Homo sapiens: one gene and its partners. The protein of the gene in region 3 interacts with the protein of the main gene of each other region in a biochemical or structural test. Each region holds a gene or a part of one and is shown on either strand. Other genes may lie near its edges.

Region 1 (7,028 bases), on a different chromosome or scaffold from region 3:
TTTTCTGTTTCAGATTTGTGCTAATTTTTCAAAACTTACATTGCTTTCGATAATTATTTTATACCACCATGAAATACTAGATTATGGTAGTTATTGATCTTAGAACAATCAGTATTTTTGATCTGAGAATAATCTCTATGACTTCGGTAAACTCTAGTGTGTGTTGATAAAAAGTAATCATCAGTTTTCTTATTTTGCCAAATATATATACTTTAAATTTTATTTTTTTCCAGGAACACTATGTTGAGATATCATTTATTTTATAATTAATGCATGTTCTTTTATTTGTTTTTGTTTTTTTTTTGAAACGGAGTCTTGCTTGCATTGCCCAGGCTGGAGTGCAATGGTGCAATCTTGGCTCACTGCAACCTCCGCCTCCCAGGTTCAAGCGGTTCTCCTGCAACAGCCTCCTAAGTAGCTGGGATTACAGGCATGCGCCATCATGCCCAGCTAATTTTTTGTATTTAGGAGAGATGAGGTTTTGCCATGTTGGTCAGGCTGGTCTTGAACCCCTGACCTCAGGTGATCCACTCACCTCGGCCTTCCAAAGTGCTGGGATTACAGGCATGAGCCACCGCGCCCAGCCACGTTCATTATTTTTAAATGGCTAAAAAGGCATTAAATCTTCTGAAGTCTATCATCCAGAACCATAACTTATCTTCTACACTTGTTTCTGTGAGCATGTGCATGTAAATTGGAATCATATTATGTATTAATAAAAATGAGATCATATTATGCCTAATGTGATTAGGAATATCATCTATATTGGACTTATAATTTCCTTGTTGATGGACATTTTTGAGTTAATCACTATTATAAAAATAATAAAAATTGAGATACTATCTTTGCATACTTGTTATTTTAATTTTTTTTCTACTTTATTGAGATGTGGTTTACGTATGATAAAATGTACATATTTTAAATGTATGATCCTAGTGTTTTGACAAAGATGTATACCTGATAACTACTACCCCAATCAAGATACAGATTGTATCCGTCTCCCTCAAAGTATCTTGTATCCTATTGCATTCATTTTTCCCTGTTCCTGCCCTAGGCAGCCACGAGTCTCATTTCTTTTCTTTTTTTTTGTTTTTTTTGAGACGGAGTCTCGCTCTGTTTCTCAGGCTGGAGCGCAGTGGCGGGATCTCGGCTCATTGCAAGCTCCGCCTCCCAAGTTCATGCCATTCTCCTGCCTCAGCCTCCCAAGTAGCTGGGACTACAGGCGCCTGCCACCATGCCCGGCTAATTTTTTTGTATTTTTGGTAGAGACGGGGTTTCACCGTGTTAGCCAGGATGGTCTGTATCTCCTGACCTCGTGATCCGCCCGCCTCGGCCTCCCAAAGTGCTGGGATTACAGGTGTGAGCCACTGCGCCCGGCCACACAAGTCTTCTATCACTATAAATAAGTTTTGCCTATTCTAGAACTTCATATACATTGAATTCTACAGTATGTACTATTTTAAGTCTGGCGTTTTTCACTCAGCATAATTTAGGTACTTCTTTGGTCTATTTTGGTTAGTTACATTTTTGAAGAAAAGCATCCATTTTATTTAGATATTCAAACTTATTCCCATAGAATTGTGCATAGTAATCATTTATCCTTATAAAATTGTAACTGTAATTTTCTGGAATTGGGGTTTGGTGGTATGATGTGTTGCTCACAAGTGGCCAGAACTCCTATTCCTGAAGGATTTTGAATTGGAGGAACACATACTTAAACTCCCTTTTATGCCTTGGTTCTAGTTACTCTTTCCAAGTTGAATAACCATTTTTTTGGTTGTTTTAAGTTGGTGCTCTGAACCTTAAATTTCAGTACCCTTTACTCTGAATTGTCAAATTTTGATAAAATGTGCCATTTTTTTAATGTCTGCCAGAACATAATTTTATATGCCTTATTGGCTCCATTAAACTTTTTAAAAACTTTTTTAAAAAGGTGATTATATTCCTGTTTTTATTCTTTGTGTTACACATTCGTGTCTTTTTTATTGATTAGCTATGACATTATTTCTTTTCAAGGCAGGCTCTCTTGAATTTTTCTTAATGATTGTGTTTCTTGGCTTAATAATTACTCTTACATTCGGTTTTTCTACTTAGATTTATTTTCTTTTCATTTCTGTTGGACTTGCGATTTGAGCACTTAATTTGAGTCATTTAATCTTTTAATCTTTAAACGTGTTAAGTATTGCGTTGCCTTTAGCCACCACGTTTTGTTATGTAGTAGCATTCTTTATTTTTAACTCTGGTGTTTTCTTATTCTTATTTCATTTTTATTTTTTGTTTTTTTTTTTTTAGTGTGTTTTCAATAAGCATATGGTTAAGTTTATTTTTTGACCCATCAAAGGCTTTATTTTATAATGTGGTTTATTTCTTTTTCTATTTTAAAATACAGTTATGTGTTGCTTAACAATGAAGATACTTTCTGAGAAAAGTGTTAGGTGATTTCTTTGTGGAAACAGAGTGAACAAGATGTTACTTTACTGAATACTGTGGGCAATTGTAACACATTTGTGTATTTAAGCATATATAACATGAAAAAAGTACAGTAAAAATATTGTATAAAATATGAAAAATGGTACACTTCTATAGGGCAGCCCCATTATAATCTTGTGGAACAACTGTTGCATAATGCATGTGGTCTGTCATTGCTGAAATGTTGTTATGCGGGGTATGACTATACTGTTATGATTAATTCTCATTCCTTTTGTTATTCTTGTCTTTGTCTTTTTGTTTTTTTATATGTCCTGTTTTTTCTTGCTGCTGGGACCATGTTTTTGTTTTTATAGTCTCCAATATTTTGGCTCATATATATTTTATTTAAAATTCTAGTAATTACTTATTTGTAACGACAGTTAACTAATTGTAATTAATGATAGCTTATTATGATAAATTACAATTATGTAATACCTTGAGATGAAATGCTCAAAAATTGTTAGTTTTGTGCCCTGCTTTTTTATTTTGGTTATGTATTTTCTAGGATTTGCATAATCCGGTTTAAAAAAGATCATCCTGTAGGCAGTGGCAGAGGGGTGGCGACTGGGAGAGAACATAGCTCTGCCTCATAGATAATATCTCTAAAAGTCTAGAGATGAATATCTGTCTAATACTCTGTTTAGTTCTGGCTGTAATCTCTTGAGTCAGTAGACATGCTGGGAGAGGTTTGAAGCAGCTTTCTTGTATATTTTCAAGGAATTTTTTAAAATTGAGATACATTTATTATAAAATTTACCATTTTAAAGTGTACAGTTGAGTAGTTTTTAGAATACTCACAAGGTTGTGCAACCATCCCTACAATCTAGTTCCAAAACATTTTCATTACTCCAAAAAGAAACCTCATTCCCATTTGTAGTCACTCCCATTATCTCTACCCCTCAGTCCCTGGCAACCATGAATCAGTCTTCTTCCTGTGTATATGGATTTACCTCCTCTTGACATTTCACGTAAATGAAATGATACAATATGTGGCATTTGGGTCTGGCCTCCAATACTCATTTTTATGTTAAATAGATTTTTTTTTTTAGTGTACTATTTTAATTCCCTTGTTTCTTTTACTATATATTTTGAGTTACTTATGATTGCTTTAGGGATTACAATTAACAACTTAATTTATAAGAACCTAGTTTGGATTAGTGCCAACTTAACAGTATATAAAAAACTTTGTGGCTGGGCATGGGGCATGGTGGCTCACGCCTGTAATCCCAGCGCTTTGGGAGGCCAAGGTGAGTGGATCACGAGGTTAGGAGATTGAGACCATCCTGGCCAACATGGTGAAACCCCATCTCTACTAAAAATACAAAAATTAGCTGGGCATGGTGGCACCTGCCTGTAGTCCCAGCTACTTGGGAGGCTGAGGCAGGAGAATCGCATGAACTAGGGAGTCAGAGGTTGCAGTGAGCCGAGATTGTGCGACTGTACTCCAGCCTGGTGACAGCAAGACTCTGTCTCAAAAAAACAACAACAAAGAAAACCCCAAAAAAACCTTTGCTCACAGCTCCATCCTATTGCCTTCCTTTGTGCTGTTATCCAAGTTATATCTTTATATATGTAGTATACCTATCAACAAAGATTTATAATTATATACTTTTTAATGAGATAGGACAAAAATTACAAAAAATTATACTTAAAAATTTTTATTTTTTTAAATAATTTTTTTTTTTTTTTTTTTTTTTTTTTTTTTTTTTTTTTAGAAACTGTCGTTACCCTTTTGCCCAGGCTGGTCTCAAACTTCTTTTGACAGTTTGATTATGATGTGACCAGGTGTGGATCTCTTTGAGTTTATTTTAGTTGGAGTTGTTGAGCTTCTTATATGTGTAGAGTAGTGGTTTCCATCGAATTGGGAAGGTTTTGGCTGTTATTTCTTTAAATATTTTTTCTGCCCCTTTCTCTTTTCTCCTTATGGTACTCTTATGTATGTGTGTTGGTATGCTTGATATTACAAGTTTCTGAGGCTCTGTTGTGTGTCATTTTTTTGTTCCTTAGATTGTATAATCTCAATTGACCTATCTTCAGCTTCGCTGATTTTTCTTATGCCTGCTCAAATTTGCTGTTGAGTCTCTCTGGTGAATTTTTTCTTCAGTTATTGTACCTTTTGACTCTAGAATTGCTGTTTGGTGAGACATCGTCTCCATGCTTTTAGACATGCGTTTTCATGTCGAAAGAAATGATTTGCTTTAGGTCTTTGAACTTATTTTTTTTTTTTTTTGAGACGGAGTCTTGCTTTGTCGCCCAGGCTGGAGTGCAGTGGCACGATCTCGGCTCACTGCAAGCTCTGCCTCCCAGGTTCACATCATTCTCCTGTGTCAGCTTCCCGAGTAACTGGGACTACAGGCACCCGCCACCTCGCCCGGCTAATTTTTTGTATTTTTAGTAGAGACGGGGTTTCACTGTGTTAGCCAGGATGGTCTCGATCTCCTGACCTCGTGATCCGCCCACCTCGGCCTCCCAAAGTGCTGGGATTACAGGCGTGAGCCACTGTGCCCGGCCAGGTCTTTGAACTTTTTAATTTTTTAGAGATAGGTTCTTGCTCTATTACCCAGGCTGGAGTGCAGTGGCGTGATCATAGCTCACTGTAACCTTGAACTCCTGCATTCAAGCAGTCCTCCCACCTCAGACTCCTGAATAGCTGGGACTACAGGCATGTACCACCATACCTGGCTAATTTTTCTATTTTTATTTTGTAGAAATGGGGTCTTGCTATGTTTCCCAGGCTGGTCTCAAATTCCTGGCCTCAAGAGATCCTCACACTTCAGCCTCCTAAAGTGCTGGGATTACAAGTGTGAGCCACCATGCCCAGCCCCTTTGAACATATTTAAAATAACTGACTTAAATTCTTTTTCTACTATGTCAAACATCTATACTTTCTTGGGGACAGTTGACATTGATTGCTTTTTTTCCCTGTGTATAGACCATACTTTCTTATTTTTTTTGCATGTCTTGTACTTTTTTTCTTGAAAAATTGACATTTTAAATAATGTGGCAGCTCTGGAAATCAGGGTGGTTTGTTGTTGCTGAGTTTTGTAATTAGTGTGTGTTTGTTAGGCTTCTAGGGTGGTTTGTTGCTGAGTTTTGTAATTAGTGTGTGTTTGTTAGTGACTTTCCTGAATTAATTCTGTGATGTCTATCCTTTATCGTGTGTGGTCACTGAAGTCTGTACTTGGTTAGCTTAGCGGTCAGCTGATGATTGTGCTGGAACTAATAAATCGTACATTCTTTGCTGAGAACTTCTGTATGTTAGGGCATTCCTTCAACACTCTAAGGCCCCTGACAACTCTGCTTTAGCTTTCACTTCTGGCTTGTTTAAATGCTCAAGTTCAGGCAAAGGTGAGCGTTTAGGGCCTTCTCAGGTCTTTCTTGAGAATGTGCACAGCCCTGGTCATGCATACCAGCCCTGTGCTTGCTTACGGCCTTCTAGATATCCAGAAATACACTGGAGCTTTTCAAAGCCCTCACAGACATCTCATTCCCTAGCTCTTCTTTATAAGCCTTTTTGTTTTTTTGCTTCAGCTGTTATCCACTGCCTCAGGTAGCCATGAAGTTAAAACACTTTCCTGTAAAATTGTTTTGACAAACATCCGCCCAAGGGAGGTTTTTTTGTACTTGGTGAGCTCAGAGGTTAAATACAGTCAGCCTTGCAAGTGGGGTCTTCCGGGGAACTTCAGGAGAATAACAGTTCTTTGGGAATGAATCTCTGAAAGAACTGTAACTCCATTCTCTTTTTTTCTGGTGACTGCCAGGCTTTACCTAGGATCCCAACAAGCTATTATTTTTATTTATTTATTTATTTATTTATTTATTTATTTATTTATTTATTTTGAGATGAAGTCTCGCTCTGTCACCAGGCTGGAGTGCAGGGGCACTATCTTGGCTCACTGCAACCTCTGCCTGCCGGGTTCAAGTGGTTCTCCTGCCTCAGCCTCCCGAGTAGCTAGGACTACAGGCGCGTGCCACCACACCCAGCTAATTTTTGTATTTTTAGTAGAGACGGGGGTCTCACCATGTTGGCTAGGATGGTCTTGATCTCTTGACCTCGTGATCTTCCCACCTCGGCCTCCCAAAGTGCTGGGGGCGTGAGCTACTGTGCCTGGCCGTGAGCTATTTTTAAAGGCTACAGGATTGCTGGGGATGGGACTGAAGTACTGATATTCAGCTGTTTATTCTTTTTATTCTTGAATAAATGTTACCCAGATTTCTGCAAGCCTTTGATTTAGTTCTCAGTGTTCTGAAACATTTGATTCTGACAAATAATTTATCTAGTTTTTTTGTTGCCTTTATTGAGGAATTTTTGAAAGTCCTCATTCTACCATTCTTTATTGTGTTACCCTCCTTCAGTTTTTAAAAATATACATCATAATATTTAAGTTAAATCATACAGTTTTTAATAAAGTAGAATCAGAATGGCATGAGTTGAAGGCTGGATATATTTTTCTTACCTAGTTCCATCCTGACTTATAAATGCCTTATTCCCTGACTTTTATATTCTGGAGAATTGAGGCTCAGGAACCACCCTGTGTGGGTTCAGATCCTAGCTCTGC
Region 2 (7,028 bases), on a different chromosome or scaffold from region 3:
ACAAACCACCGGAGATAATAATGTGTGATGCCTACGTTACTGATTTTCCACTTGTGAGTCTCTTCTTTTATTTAAAATACAGTGATATATTCTCACTTATTAAAGACTAAATTTTTTAAAACTTAAAGTTGATGGTAAATATAAAGGAAATATATATATTTATATATGTGTATATATTTATAGTTTAGTAACACTGATCATAATATTTACTAATTGCCAAAATACCTTAAGTTTATGAGATTTAGAAATGTCTAAAGTTCACTCAGGAAGGATGCCTCTAATTTCTTATATCCTAAACACGAGAGCCAATGTGAAGGAATAAAATGTGCTATAAATATGTCAAGAATAATTTCCTTTTAAACAGTTATAACTTATATTGGAAACAGTAGTTTTTAAGTCTTGTTAAGGTATGGTCATATGCTGGAATAATAGAAATCTAGTTCTGCTCTTTTCAAACATTTAGGTTTGATAGTTATTTTACGTTGGTCTAAAGAAGCCAGTAAATAGTACCCCTCTTTCCTACATGAGTGTGACAAACTGAGAAGCAAGCAAGGAGTAAGACAAGCAGAAACCCAAAATATCACTTTGATTACTGATAGAGGCTTTGTGGAGGATATTGCTTCATGTCAGAGTAAATGGTCTAGCACCAAACCCCAGAATTGAGTGGCCACCCCACACCTCCAGTCTCAGCAGTACGGAGCCCAGATAGGCTTCCTGAGGTACTGAGCAAGCTGGGGGCCTGTGGGCTTCTCACTGGAGCAGCAGAACCCTTACTCTTGGCCATTGGGTTGGCTCTAAAAGAAGAAAAAGGAAAAGGCTGTTTATTTATCCTTCTTAAATATTCTAATCATATAAATTTCCCTGCACCTTCCCAAAAGTGATGATTAAGAGGAGAGAATCCAGGAGTCAAACACTAATGGGGCTCTCTCTGCTTAAGAGGAAACTTGAGTAGCTCAAGAAGCATTTCTAGGAATCATTTGAAAGGAAGCTCTTTCAGAGCTCACTTTACTTTTTAGATGGCTTAGTACAGAATTGAGAATTCCTATTATAACCATAGATTGTTGTTTTCATTGTTTAGTCCTGGATAATTTTGGGATTACCAAAATTCACGAGAGGCCAGAATTCACGAGAGGATAGTATCAGTTAAGATGTCTTATGTACTAGATTATATTGTGGCTTTCATTGATTTCATTATTAACAGTCCCTAATTTTTTTTTTTACAGGATCTAGATATTGATCCAAAAGATGCAAATAAAGGCACACCTGAAGAAACTGGCAGCTACTTGGTATCAAAGGATCTTCCCAAGCATTGCCTCTATACCAGACTCAGTTCACTGCAAAAATTAAAGGTTACTACCTTTTCTGTTTATAGCTACTAATGGAAAACTTTATGAAACTGGAAACTTATTTTGGCATAGACCATAGATATGCTGCCTTATTATTAAAGTAGAGATAACCAGTCTACAGAAGGTCCTATCAGTGACCCTTTTTATATTCTGTTTCCGATGGTGACCAGAGGACTTTATGTGTGCTTACCCTCCAGAATGCTAAAAAATTAGTAACATTAGAGTATATTCTTTTTTCTTTTTTTAGAGACAGAGTCTTAACTCTGTCACCCAGGCTGGAGTGCAGTGGCATGAACATGACCTACTATAACCTCAAACTCCTCAGTGCATATGATCCTGCCACCTCAGCTTCCCAAGTATCTGAGTCTACAGGCACATGCCACTACACCCAGCTAATTTTTTAAAACTTTTTGTGGAGAAGGGATCTCACTATATTGCCCAGGCCAATCTCAAACTCCTGGCCTCAAGAATCCTCCCTTCTTGGTCTCCCAAAGCACTCGGAGTACAGGTGTGAGCTTCCACTCCCAGCTCCATATTCTACTTTTAAATATGTTCAGATTTTCAAGTAATCATTTCCTAGTTCTATGACTAGACATATAGCAAATTAGAATTTTTTTTCCATTTTTTTATTTCTAGTTGACTTACAAATGAGAAGCTAGTTCTGCACATTGAGTGTTCTAATGAAAGCTTTTAATTTGTTCACAACTACATGACCATAGAATGTATCAGCTAAAACTCAGGGAATGGAATGGGCATGATTGAGAATTACACACATAAACCTGTTGTCATCCTGTTCGGAGCTCATCTACTTAAAATCCTTTCTTCTCTTAAAAAGTTAGCCCATTATCTGATTCAGTTATATTTTCCACCTACGATTATGGATTACTATAATATTTTAAAAACAGCTTAAGCTTTTTTTATAAAACTGGTATAAAACCAGGTTTTTTTTTTTGTTTTGAGATGGTGTCTCTCTCTGTCGCCTAGGTTGGAATGCAGTGGCGCGATCTCAGCTCACTGCAACCTCCACCTCCCAGACTCAAGTGATTCTTGTGCCTCAGCCTCCCGAGTAGCCAGGACTACAGGCGCACACCACCATGCCCAGTTAATTTTTTGTATTTTTAGTAGAGACAGGTTTCACCACGTTGGCCAGACTGGTCTTGAACTCCTAACTTCAAGTGATCCATCTGCGTCATCCTCCCAAAGTGCTGGGATTATAGGCGTGAGCCACCACGCCGGGCCCAGATCATTTTTTAATTAAAAGTTAATACCCCATCTCTAATAATAGGGAAGGGTAAGTTTCCTAAGCTGCACTGCTTGGAAAATGTTTTCCCTGTTCATCTAGAGTGTAAGAAAGATCTCTTTGACTTTGACTACTAACAGTAGTAAGAACTAGAAATTCTAAATGGGTTGTAAGTATTGCATGAAGGAAAAGGAAGATAATGATAGCTGGCGTTTCTCAGTTTCAGGGAGATATAAAGGATGCCTTGAGGATTTGGAACCTGGGAAAGGAGAGTGAGTGGATTTTTGGGGGTGGGGGTGTGTATGTGTGAATATTTTCAGATTGATATATATTCACTGTTGATGCCAATAATAAACCAGATTTTTTTCCTTTTCAGGAACATCTAGTCTTCACAGTATGTTTATCATATCAGTACTCAGGATTGGAAGATACTGTAGAGGACAAGCAGGAAGTGAATGTTGGGAAACCTCTCATTGCTAAATTAGACATGCATCGAGGTTTGGGAAGGAAGACTTGCTTTCAAACTTGTCTTATGTCTAATGGTCCTTACCAGAGTTCTGCAGCCACCTCAGGAGGAGCAGGGCATTATCACTCATTGCAAGACCCATTCCATGGTGTTTACCATTCACATCCTGGTAATCCAAGTAATGTTACACCAGCAGATAGCTGTCATTGCAGCCGGACTCCAGATGCATTTATTTCAAGTTTCGCTCACCATGCTTCATGTCATTTTAGTAGAAGTAATGTGCCAGTAGAGACAACTGATGAAATACCATTTAGTTTCTCTGACAGGCTCAGAATTTCTGAAAAATGACCTCCTTGTTTTTGAAAGTTAGCATAATTTTAGATGCCTGTGAAATAGTACTGCACTTACATAAAGTGAGACATTGTGAAAAGGCAAATTTGTATATGTAGAGAAAGAATAGTAGTAACTGTTTCATAGCAAACTTCAGGACTTTGAGATGTTGAAATTACATTATTTAATTACAGACTTCCTCTTTCTAAGATTTTGTGAATTGGTTGAATAGTTCTATACAAATGAAGTATGGAGGTGTGTATGTTTATATGTATATAACAAAATATTTTCATTGTGACCACTCTGAAGTAAGAGCAATGGGAATGGCATTATTGTAGAATAAGTCATTGTATTTTTAACACCAGAAAGAACCTTGCCGATCACCAGGCATAACCTAATTTTATCCATGGAAGAAACACAGAAAGGCATCTAAGTTAGAGCTGGCACCAGAACTGAGACCTCCAGAAATCTATTCCAGTATTTTTTCCACTACACAACTGCCTTCCTGACAGGTTCTGAGATAAGTGTTATGTTTGTAGATAGAGTGAAATATATTTATATATATATAAATATATACAGATACATATCTGTGTATTATCTCAAGGAATGTACAAACTTTAGTTTTTGATTATAAGGACTTCACTGCAAGTTTTAGTTAAGAGGTTTGTATATAAATCTGTTATAGAACAGGCTGAAATTTCTTGTTCATAAGATTATGAAACCACATGAGAAGTGATAAAATGTTTGTTAAAGCTAGATAGAGGTTAAGAATCAAGATATAATGGATAATTTTCATAGCTGCCTATCAGAATTTCCCAAATATTTAGCATCTTCCTTGATAATATGTATTTTCTTCTTGAATTTCACTGGCCTAATGAGATAATACTCTTATCTTTGGCTCTACCTAAAAGTTGGTTAAAAATGCAATTGGCATTAACAAGGAAAAATACTGAATTAGTAATTTTAAAAGTCTCACAAAGAAAATCCCAGGCCTAGATGGCTGCATTGTTGAATTCTGCCAAACATTAAAATTAGCACTAATTTTTTGCACACTGTTTCTAAAAGTAGGAGAGGAAAGAACACTTCCCAACTTACTCTAGGTCAGTATTACCCTGATACTAGACTAGACATCACAAGAAAACTATAAGCCAATATTCCTTATTAATACAAACACAAAAATCATTAACAAAAATATTAGCAAACTGAATCCAGCAACCTATAAAAAGGATTCTATATCATGACCAAGTGGAATTTATCCCAGGAATTCAAGGTTGGTTCAACATCTAAAAATCAAATAAGCTAATATACAGTCAGTTCTCATTATTCACAGTAATTATGTTCTACAGAATATTCTCCCATAAACACTGAATTAAATATGGAACAACTGCTTTTAGGAGAAAGTGTATTTGTGTATATGTGTGTATACATATGTTTATCTCACACACATTATGAGCTTGAATTCTTAATTCATCCTAGCAAATTCTACCTTATTTTACAGAAGTGAAAGTGAGGTATCAGAAGTGTTAAGTGACATGCCTGAGGCACCCCCCTAACAGGTGTCAGAGCTGAAATTCAAACCCCATCCAGCTGGCCCCGGAGCCAGAGCTTCTTGTACTACACAGAATTGCCCCTGCCATTTCCACCCTCCAGTCATTTCTCTATGAGACTGAAGCAGGAAGGCAGAGCATCATCTTGTTCAGCCTCAGCTGGGAACATGTGTACTGGGTGACTCAAATTTTTCACCCATTTACACATATCCACAAATGACTGCAAAAGTGCCACGGATATCAATTTGAGGGTTATAAATTTTAGCAAGTTGGTAAATTCACAAATACATAACCTTGAATAATGAGGATCAACTGTACCATATTTAATAAAGCACAAAACCCACACAGATTGTCTTATTACAGCATTTGATAAAATCCAAAACTCTTTCATAAAAACACTCAACAAACTTAGGAATAAAAGGAATCTTCCTAGATATGATAAATATAACATCTATGAAAAGCCCACACCTAACATTATACTTCATGGTGATAGACTGAAGGCTGAATGTTTTCCCCTTAAGATTGGGAAGAAGGACAAGGATGTTCACTCGGCACTACTTCTATTCAGCATTGTACTTGAAGTTCTAGCCACAGCAGTTAGGTTAGGAATTCAAGGTTTGTTCAACATCTAAAAATCAAATAAGCTAATAAAGAAAAGAGGTTTATACTGCAAAAGAAGTGAAACTATATGTATTCACAGTTGATACATAGTTGTATATAGAAAATGCTAAAGAATCCATAAAAAGTAATAAATGAGTTCAACAGGTTGCAGGATACAAGATCAGTTTTATTTCTCTACTAACAGCAAACATTCTGAAAATGAGAATAAAGAAATCCTATATACAGTAGCATCAAGAATAAAACTCCAACACGTTTAAAGAAATTAAGATCCAGATAAATGGAAAGACATCCATGTTCATGGATTGGAAGACTGAATATTGGTAAGATGGCAATGCTGCCCAAATTAGTCTACATATTCAACAATTCCTATCAAAATCCTAGCTGTATTTTTTGCAGAAATTGACAAACTGGTAAAATTGGTAGGGAAACGCAGGGGACCCAGAATAGCCAAAAAACCTTGGAAAAGAACAAAGTTGGAAGACGTACCAATTTCAAAAAGTGCTACCAAGCTACAATAAGACAGTGTAGGCATATGGATAGACATATCGATCAGAGGAATGGAACTGAACATCCAGAAATAAACCCATACATTTCTGGTCAACTTGTTTTCAACAAGGATGCCAATACCATCAATAGAGAAGGAGTGGTCTTTTCAACAAACGGTGCTGGGACAACTAACTGGTAGCTACGTGCACAGCAAAAGGATCCCTACCTTCCTACCACATTACAAATTCTAACTCAAAATGGATCATAGACCTCAATATAAGAGTTTAAACTCTTAGAAGAAAACAGAAGTAAATCTTTGTGATGTTGGGCTTAGGAATGGTTTCTTAGACATAATACCAAAAGCACAAGCAACAAAGGCAAACAGTAGATAAATGGGACTTCATCAAAATTAACTTTAGCGCCTTAAAGGACACCATTAAGAAAGTGAAGTTAACCCTCAGAATGGGAGAAAAATTTTTGAAAAATCATGTATCTGATAAAAAAACAAACAAACATGCAGGTGCTCAGCTGTGGTTACCACCGAGCAGCACTGTCCAGTGAACTTGCTGTGATGATGGGATGCTTGGTATCCGCACTCCCAGTGTGATAGCCTTTAGCCTCATGGGGTTGTTGAGCAGTTGAAATAATAGCTAGTGTGAGGAACTGAACATAAAATTTTAGTTTTAGGATGGGTGTGGTGGCTCACGCCTATAATCTCAGCACTTTGGGAGGCCAATGAAGGCGGATCACTTGAGCCCAGGAGTTCAAGACCAGCTTGACCAAGATGGCAAAACCCTGTCTCTATTAAAAATACAAAAAAATTAGCTGGGCATGGTGGCACACACCTGTAATCCCAGCTACTAGGGAGGCTGAGGCAGGAGAATCGTACTTCCCCTTTATACTCTTCTGTATATTTGATTTTTTTTTTTTTAAGACAGAGTCCTGGCTCTGTCGCCCAGGCTGGAGTGCAGCGACATAGTCTCAGCTCACTG
Region 3 (7,028 bases):
CACCGCGTCTGGCCTAATTTTGTATTTTTAGTGGGGACAGGGTTTCTCCATGTTGCTCAGGCTGGTCTCAGACTCCCGACCTCAGATGATCCGCCCACCTCGGCCTTCGCAAAGTGCTAGGATTACAGGCGTGAGCCGCCGTGCCCGGTTGAGAGGAGGAAGACTTTTAACATGTTACATGGTTCGTTGTTTTTTATTTTTATTTTATTTTATTTTGAGATAGTCTCACTCTGTCAACCAGGCTGGAGTGTAGTGGCCCGATCACACCTCACAGCCTGGACCCCCTGGGCTCAAACAATCCTCCCACCTTAGCCTTCTGAGTAGCTGGGACTATAGGGGTACACCACCATACCTGGCTAATTTGTGTGTGTGTGTGTGTAGAGATGGGGGTCTCACTGTGTTGCCCAGACGGGTCTCAAACTCCTGGGCTCAAATGGCCCACCTGCCGTGGCCTCCCAAAGTGCTAGGATTATAGGCGTGAACCACTGTGCCTGGCCAGTTGTTTTTTATTTTTTGTACTTTATTGACTAAGGTCCCTCTTTTTTTTTTTTTTTGAGATGGAGCTTTGCTCTTGTTGCCCAGGCTGGAGTTCAGTGACACTATCTCGGGCTCACCGCAACCTCTGCCTCCCAGGTTCAAGTGATTCTCCTGCCTCAGGCTCCTGAGTAGCTGGGATTACAGGCATGCGACACCATGCCCGGCTAATTTTGTATTTTTAGTAGAGATGGGGTTTCTCCATGTTGGTCAAGCTGGTCTCGAACTCCCAACCTCAGGTGATCCACTCCCTTCGGCCTCCCAAAGTGTTAGGATTACAGGTGTGAGCCACCATGTCCAGCCAGATCCCTCATTTTTTATGTTGTTCTAGTATTTATTTGGATTTATATGATTAGCAGTTTTGTTTTTCTATGTTTTTGTGTTCAGTTTTCTGAAGCAATATTTGTTGTCACTAGAGTTTAGTACTTTTTCAAGTTTTCTCATATTTAATGAAGGTACTGTCCCCATCTTTAAAATAGAAACAGTGTGAGAATTAAGTGAAATAATGATTAGATAATAGGAGAATACCTGAGTACTTGACTTAGTAAATATTAGTTTGTTTTTCTCCTCTTTTTTTTGCTCTTGCTTTTTATTAGATAACAGAAAAACTTGACTGTTAATTAAAATTTTTTTTTTTTTTGAGACAGTCTTGCTTTGCCACCCAGGCTGGAGTGCAGTGGCGTGATCTCAGCTCACTGCAGTTGCCACCTCCCGAGTTCAGGTGATTCTCCTGCCTCAGCCTCCCGACTAGCTGGGATTACAGGCGTGTGCTACCAATTTTTGTATTTTTAATAGAGACGGGGTTTCACCATGTTGGCCAGGCTGGTCTCGAACTCCTGACCTCAGGCAGTCTGCCCGCCTTTGGCCTCCCAAAGGGCTGGGATTACAGGCATGAGCCACCACACCCAGCCTGTTAATTTAAAATTTAGAGGGGATAAAATCAAAGGTGTCAGAAGTTAGGGTGATATTTACTGTAAGAATTGGATTAGATTAATAGGCTAGCTTTGGGATTAAATTTTTTTTTGTTTACATAAAATCTTTCAGAAAAGAGCTTTGGGTTTTTTTTTTTTTTTTTTTAAACAAAAGGAATTGAGGTAGAATTTACATGTAGTGAAATGCACAGATGTGCCATGAGTTTGACAAATGTAGCTTGTTACCCCTACTGAGATACAGAACATTCCTGTCATTCCAGAAAGCTCCCTTTGCGCTTTCCCACACCTGAGAGATTTGCGTGTTGTAGAGCTTTGGTAAGTAGGGTCATGTAGTGTGTACACTTACGGTTCTTTACTCAGCATGAAGTCTGAGCAATTCAGTTGTGTTATCTCATGTAGTAGGAGTGTGTTTCTTTTTATTGTTGAATAGTATTTTACTGTATGGATATACCACAATGTGTTTATCACTTCTTTTTATGGACATTTGGATTTAATCTACTTTCTTGCTTTTACAAATAAAGCTGCTATGGGCATTCTTGTAGAAGTCTTTTTGTGAACATGTGTTTGTTTCCATTTCGCTTGGGTAAATGCCTAGGAATAGAATTGCTGTATCATAGGGGAGTCTGATATGCATCCAGATTGGAGAATCACAGCCAAGATAATCATGAGATCTATCTGATTTTAGTCATTTTTATATATTGAAAGTGCTGGGGATATTATTAATATTTGCTTGCTATTAATCTCAGATGAGTTTTATATAGCTCTTTTTTTCTTAAAGTATTGAAATATTTAATAACATACATATAACATTGTTGCATAGGTTTTACATTAGAGTAGTTTAATACTGCAAATCTGACCTCCATTTGGATAGCTCTTGTTTATGGGGATGGGATCAGTTTGAGTAGGTGAGATCTGTAGATGGTTGGTTAGCTTCCTCCCTCTCTGGTCTTATACAGCAGCCAGCAGATATTAAATTTTTCACTTTCATTTATTTATGTATATATTTTTATGTTATTTTAATTATAATTTAGAAAATTTAAAGTTTCAATAATTATAATTCTCTTTAAAACAATTTTTTTTTCTTTTTAATCTCTTGAGTCAAGGTGAGGATTCATTTATTTTTTACTTTGCTGTTTTAATGGTACACTAATAAGTTAACAGAGTGAACAAAAGCCATAGCAGAAAGAAGAGTTAATTTATAGGCATGAAAATAAGCCCTGGATAATCTAGAAGCTTTAAGTTTGATACCTATTTGAAAATGATGTGTAAACATAAAGTTTGCCATTGTATCTCTGAATTCAGATAATGGGATTTAATGAACCTCAAAATTAATGAAGTGGCAACGTAAGTATAACTAACAGGGGACATAAAATAATTATGTTTTATTGCTGCAAAATAGTATAATATGGGGTTTTCTCTTTTGCTAGAAGTTATTGATTGCCATATTTAGTAGGATAATCATATAATTTGTTATCCAACAAGACCCTTTTGAGAATGAAAGGAGGCACTGTTAATAGTCAATTCTGGGACAATAGGAATAAGCAGAACTGTTCTGTAAAACAGAAACCTTCATATATGTTTAACACAAGTCTCAAGTAGCCCCTCCCTCTACAATGTAAACTTTTTAGCAAAATCTAAATTTAAGTGGTTTGCTTTTTCGTTTTTCCTTCTTCGTTCTAATTTGTTACAGGCATCATTTTTATCACAAAAGCAACTTGGGATCATATTGATAATACTTTGTAGAATTAATTTTGTAAAATCTCATGGAATTAATTTTGTAAAATCTCAATTTTTAAGTATGCTTATTGCATTTTTTCTCACCATATAGGTGAAATAAATTTGAATGTAGAAAAATAAATTCTTAATCATAAACACTGTCTTACGTACATTCATATTGTACTTTCCCTTTTTTTTTTTTAGCACTTAGACATTAATATTTTAGGTATTGTTATTTTGATTATCTTTTTGTTTTTTGCCTTCCAGACAAATTATGAAAACAGAATATATAGCCTGAAAGTAGAATGTGGACCTAAATACCCAGAAGCTCCTCCGTCAGTTAGATTTGTAACAAAAATTAATATGAACGGAATAAATAATTCCAGTGGGATGGTAAGTTAATATAGTCATTTTGGTTTTATATAACATAATGTATAGAGTTATATATTATACGTACACACACCATAATATATGTAAGATATTAATATGTAGTTAGGAGAAAGTTTTTAAAAGAGGACCTTTGTTAAGCCAAAAGTCTAAAGAAGGTTGCATTATGTTGTTTTTCTTTTATTAATATAAATTAGGCCATCCTTAAAAACCTTAATGTACTTGCCTAGAATAGATGCATGTGGTGGTTAAAACTTTTTTTTTCTTTTCTTTTTTTTTTGAAACAGAGTCTCACTCTGTCACCCAGGCTGGAGTACAATTGTGCGATCTTGGCTCACTGCAACCTCTGCCTCCCGGCTTCAAGTGATTCTCCTGCCTCAACCTCCCGAGTAGCTGGGATTACAGGCACCTGCCATCATGCCCAGTTAATTTTTGTATTTTTGTAGAGACGGGGTTTCACAATGGCCAGGCTGGTCTCGAACTCCTGACCTTAGTTGATCCGCCCGGCTCGGCCTCCCAAAGTGCTGGGATTACAGGTATGAGCCACTGTGCCTGGCCAAAAGTTTTCTTAGGGTTTTAATTGCCTTAATAGTCATATTTCAGTTGATCTTTATTTGGTAAAAAGATGACCATTATTGGGCGGGGCATGGTGGCTCACGCTTGTAGAGATTGTGCCACTGCACTCCAGCCTGGGTGAAAGAGCGAAACTCCGTCTCAAAAAAAAAAAAAAAAAGAGATGATCATTATTTCTCTTTGAATGTTACTTTTCTGAGGGTTAAGGTACATTTGGTGGGATTAAAAGGATGACTGTTCATGAAAAGGATGAATATTCATGAAGGGTTTTTTTCTTTAAAGAGCAAATATGTCTGTGTTGAAACAGTCATGGCTGAGCATCATTGTCTATTTATTTTTGGGTTTCACTCTGTCCCCCAGGCTGTAGTGCAGTGGTACTCCCCCACTTCCTGTGGCCTCAAGTGATTCTCCCACTTCAGCCTCCCAAGTATGTGAGACTACAAGGCACATGCCACCAAGCCCATCTAATTTTTGTATTTTTTGGTAGAGATGGGGTTTCGTCATGTTGGCCAGGCTGGACTCAACTCCTGACCTCAAGTGATCTGCCCACCTTGGCCTCCCAAAGTGCTGGGATTACAGGCGTGAGCCACTGTGTCCAGCCCATTGTCTCTTTAAACAAAATGACATGCCCTGCTTGACCCACACAAGTTAGTTAGTAGAAACAGCTGAATTTCCAGTATGAGTAGATTGTTAAGTTCATGATAAGTCTTTGAAGCCTAGGCTCTCTTGGTGCCATGTTGAGAGCACGCCACATACAAAATACATTTTAGGAAGCAAAATAACATATCATCATCATAAAATGAGTATCATCCATCTTAGGAAATAGGGCCTCAGTATCCTTGATTTCTCATCCCATCCCTGCGTTCCCTCTCTCTACCAGTGTATTTTGTACTACAAATGTATCACATATGTACACAAATTCATCCTCCTTTCTTCTCTCCTTCTCTCTTTCCTTCTCATCTGTTTACCATCTGTTAAAAATCACGAGTTTATACTAACAACTCCCACTAATTTTATTCTAAAACTATAGGGTTTGTTCTATGATTCTTCCTTTCCAGTTGAGAAACCTGGCTCCCATGCTTCCCAGTGCATTTACTTATTTGCTCAATTTCCCCTTCATATAACTGTACTTCTGGCAACAAGTTGAATCTTGGATTCACAGCCAGCTCCCTGCCCCTCAACCCCAACCTAATACGCAGGTCTGAGGCGGGGCCCCAGATTGGCTGGTGCATCCAGCAGGGAGGCACCAGGCCAAATAAAGCATGACCCTGAGAAAGGAAGAAGCTGGGAAAGGTCATTGGAAACCTTAGCCCTGCACCTGCTGGGCCATTAACACCCCCCCACCCCTGTGCCAACTCAGAGCTGGGACCTGAGAGTCTCTCCAGCCCTCACAGTCCTCAGTTGGTCAGTCTTTGTGATTTACTGGGAGCATTTAGTCCATTTACATTTAATATTCTTAATTACTGACATGTTCAGGTTTAAACAGATCATCTTATTTGGTGGTTTCTATTTTTCTACATGTTTCTTGCCTACTTTTGGAATGGTTGTTCTCAACTTCTTTCATTCTGTTTGTGTTCTTTCAGTGATTATTCTAGAAATTATGCACACTTATCTATTTTTAAGAAATTTGATAGGAGCAGGATTATAAAGCATATGAGTACACAGAAAAGATATTATTTAGGGAATGTCCTGTGTGACACACAGCATTGCCTTTATGAAGAAGACCTTTGTTAGATTTTGCTACTAGACATATCTGGTTTTCTCCACTACTGTTTTGTTTTTACATTATAGCTTCTGTAAATTAAGTAACTAATGGTGTGTTCTACATTGTCATGGAAGCTAGGAAATTTAGATTAAATTTCAGACCTACCTCTAATAAGCTTATCTGATCTCTTGGGCTTTTGGTCCAGTAGTTGATATTTTGCCTCCCTCTCTACCTCCCTTCCCCCAACCCATTTATCATTAAGCCTTGTCAGTTTTATGTTCCAAATGTGACTGGATTTAGGTCTTATTTTTCTATTTACATTGCCACCAAGTGAATATTGGCCATCATTTATTTCCTGGACTCTTGCAACAACGTCTCTGATTCTACTTTTTAAAATCCCTTCCAGTCTTTCCAAAGTTAGCAGCCAGAGGGATCCTCCTAAGAGACAAATTGCGTCGTGTCATTTCTGCACTTCAGATTCCTTTAGGGGCATCAGCCTCAGCATGCATGCTTCTTGCCATGGCTCACTGGGAGTGCTCAAGGTGCACACTGGCCTGCATGCCTTTCGTTTGGTCTCAAGACCTTTGCACTTCTGTTCTTCCTCCTTCCTCCCCAGTCTGGCTAACTCCTATGGGTCCTTCATTTCTCACTGTAAATTCCACTTTCTTTTTTATTGAGACAGAGTCTCACTCTGTCACTCAGGCTGGAGTGCAGTGGCATGATCTCGCTCACTGCAACCTCCATCTCCTGGGTTTAAGTGATTCTGCTGCCTTAGCCTCCCAAGTAGCTGGGACTACAAGTGTGTGCCACAACACCTGGCTAATTTAATACAGATGGGGGTTTGCCATGTTGGCCAGGCTGGTCTCAGACTCCTGACCCGCGTTGGCCTCCCAAAGTGCTGGGATTACAGGCATGAGCCACCGCACCCAGCCTAAATTCCACTTTTTAGTATCTTTATTGATGTTCCAACTTGAATTATGTCCCTTCTATTGCTCTGTTAGAGTCACTCTTATTCTTTTGTTGCACTTAACTATAAATTTATTTTTTTGTTTTTAAAAGAAATGTTTCTAACATAATAGAAGTTTTAGAGAATGATAGAACCAGCATCTATGTGTCCTTCACCTAGCTTTGTCAAATGTTAACATTTGTCTTATTTGTAACAGATCTTTTAATTTTTTTTT

What was found.
Region 1: the proteins of UBE2V2 (region 3) and HLTF form a complex in vitro, tested with the Homo sapiens proteins (2 studies listed by BioGRID).
Region 2: the proteins of UBE2V2 (region 3) and MALT1 form a complex in vitro, tested with the Homo sapiens proteins (one study listed by BioGRID).

What each region holds. Positions count from the first base shown.
Region 1 is NC_000003.12:149,076,528-149,083,555, reverse strand, and holds part of HLTF (helicase-like transcription factor), read left to right. Parts: intron 1-7,028. UniProt on the Homo sapiens protein: Has both helicase and E3 ubiquitin ligase activities. Possesses intrinsic ATP-dependent nucleosome-remodeling activity; This activity may be required for transcriptional activation or repression of specific target promoters.
Region 2 is NC_000018.10:58,744,443-58,751,470, forward strand, and holds part of MALT1 (mucosa-associated lymphoid tissue lymphoma translocation protein 1), read left to right. Parts: coding exon 1-53; intron 54-1,223; coding exon 1,224-1,349; intron 1,350-2,962; coding exon 2,963-3,400; 3' UTR 3,401-7,028. UniProt on the Homo sapiens protein: Protease that enhances BCL10-induced activation: acts via formation of CBM complexes that channel adaptive and innate immune signaling downstream of CARD domain-containing proteins (CARD9, CARD11 and CARD14) to activate NF-kappa-B and MAP kinase p38 pathways which stimulate expression of genes encoding pro-inflammatory cytokines and chemokines.
Region 3 is NC_000008.11:48,046,404-48,053,431, forward strand, and holds part of UBE2V2 (ubiquitin-conjugating enzyme E2 variant 2), read left to right. Parts: intron 1-3,449; coding exon 3,450-3,575; intron 3,576-7,028. UniProt on the Homo sapiens protein: Has no ubiquitin ligase activity on its own. The UBE2V2/UBE2N heterodimer catalyzes the synthesis of non-canonical poly-ubiquitin chains that are linked through 'Lys-63'. This type of poly-ubiquitination does not lead to protein degradation by the proteasome.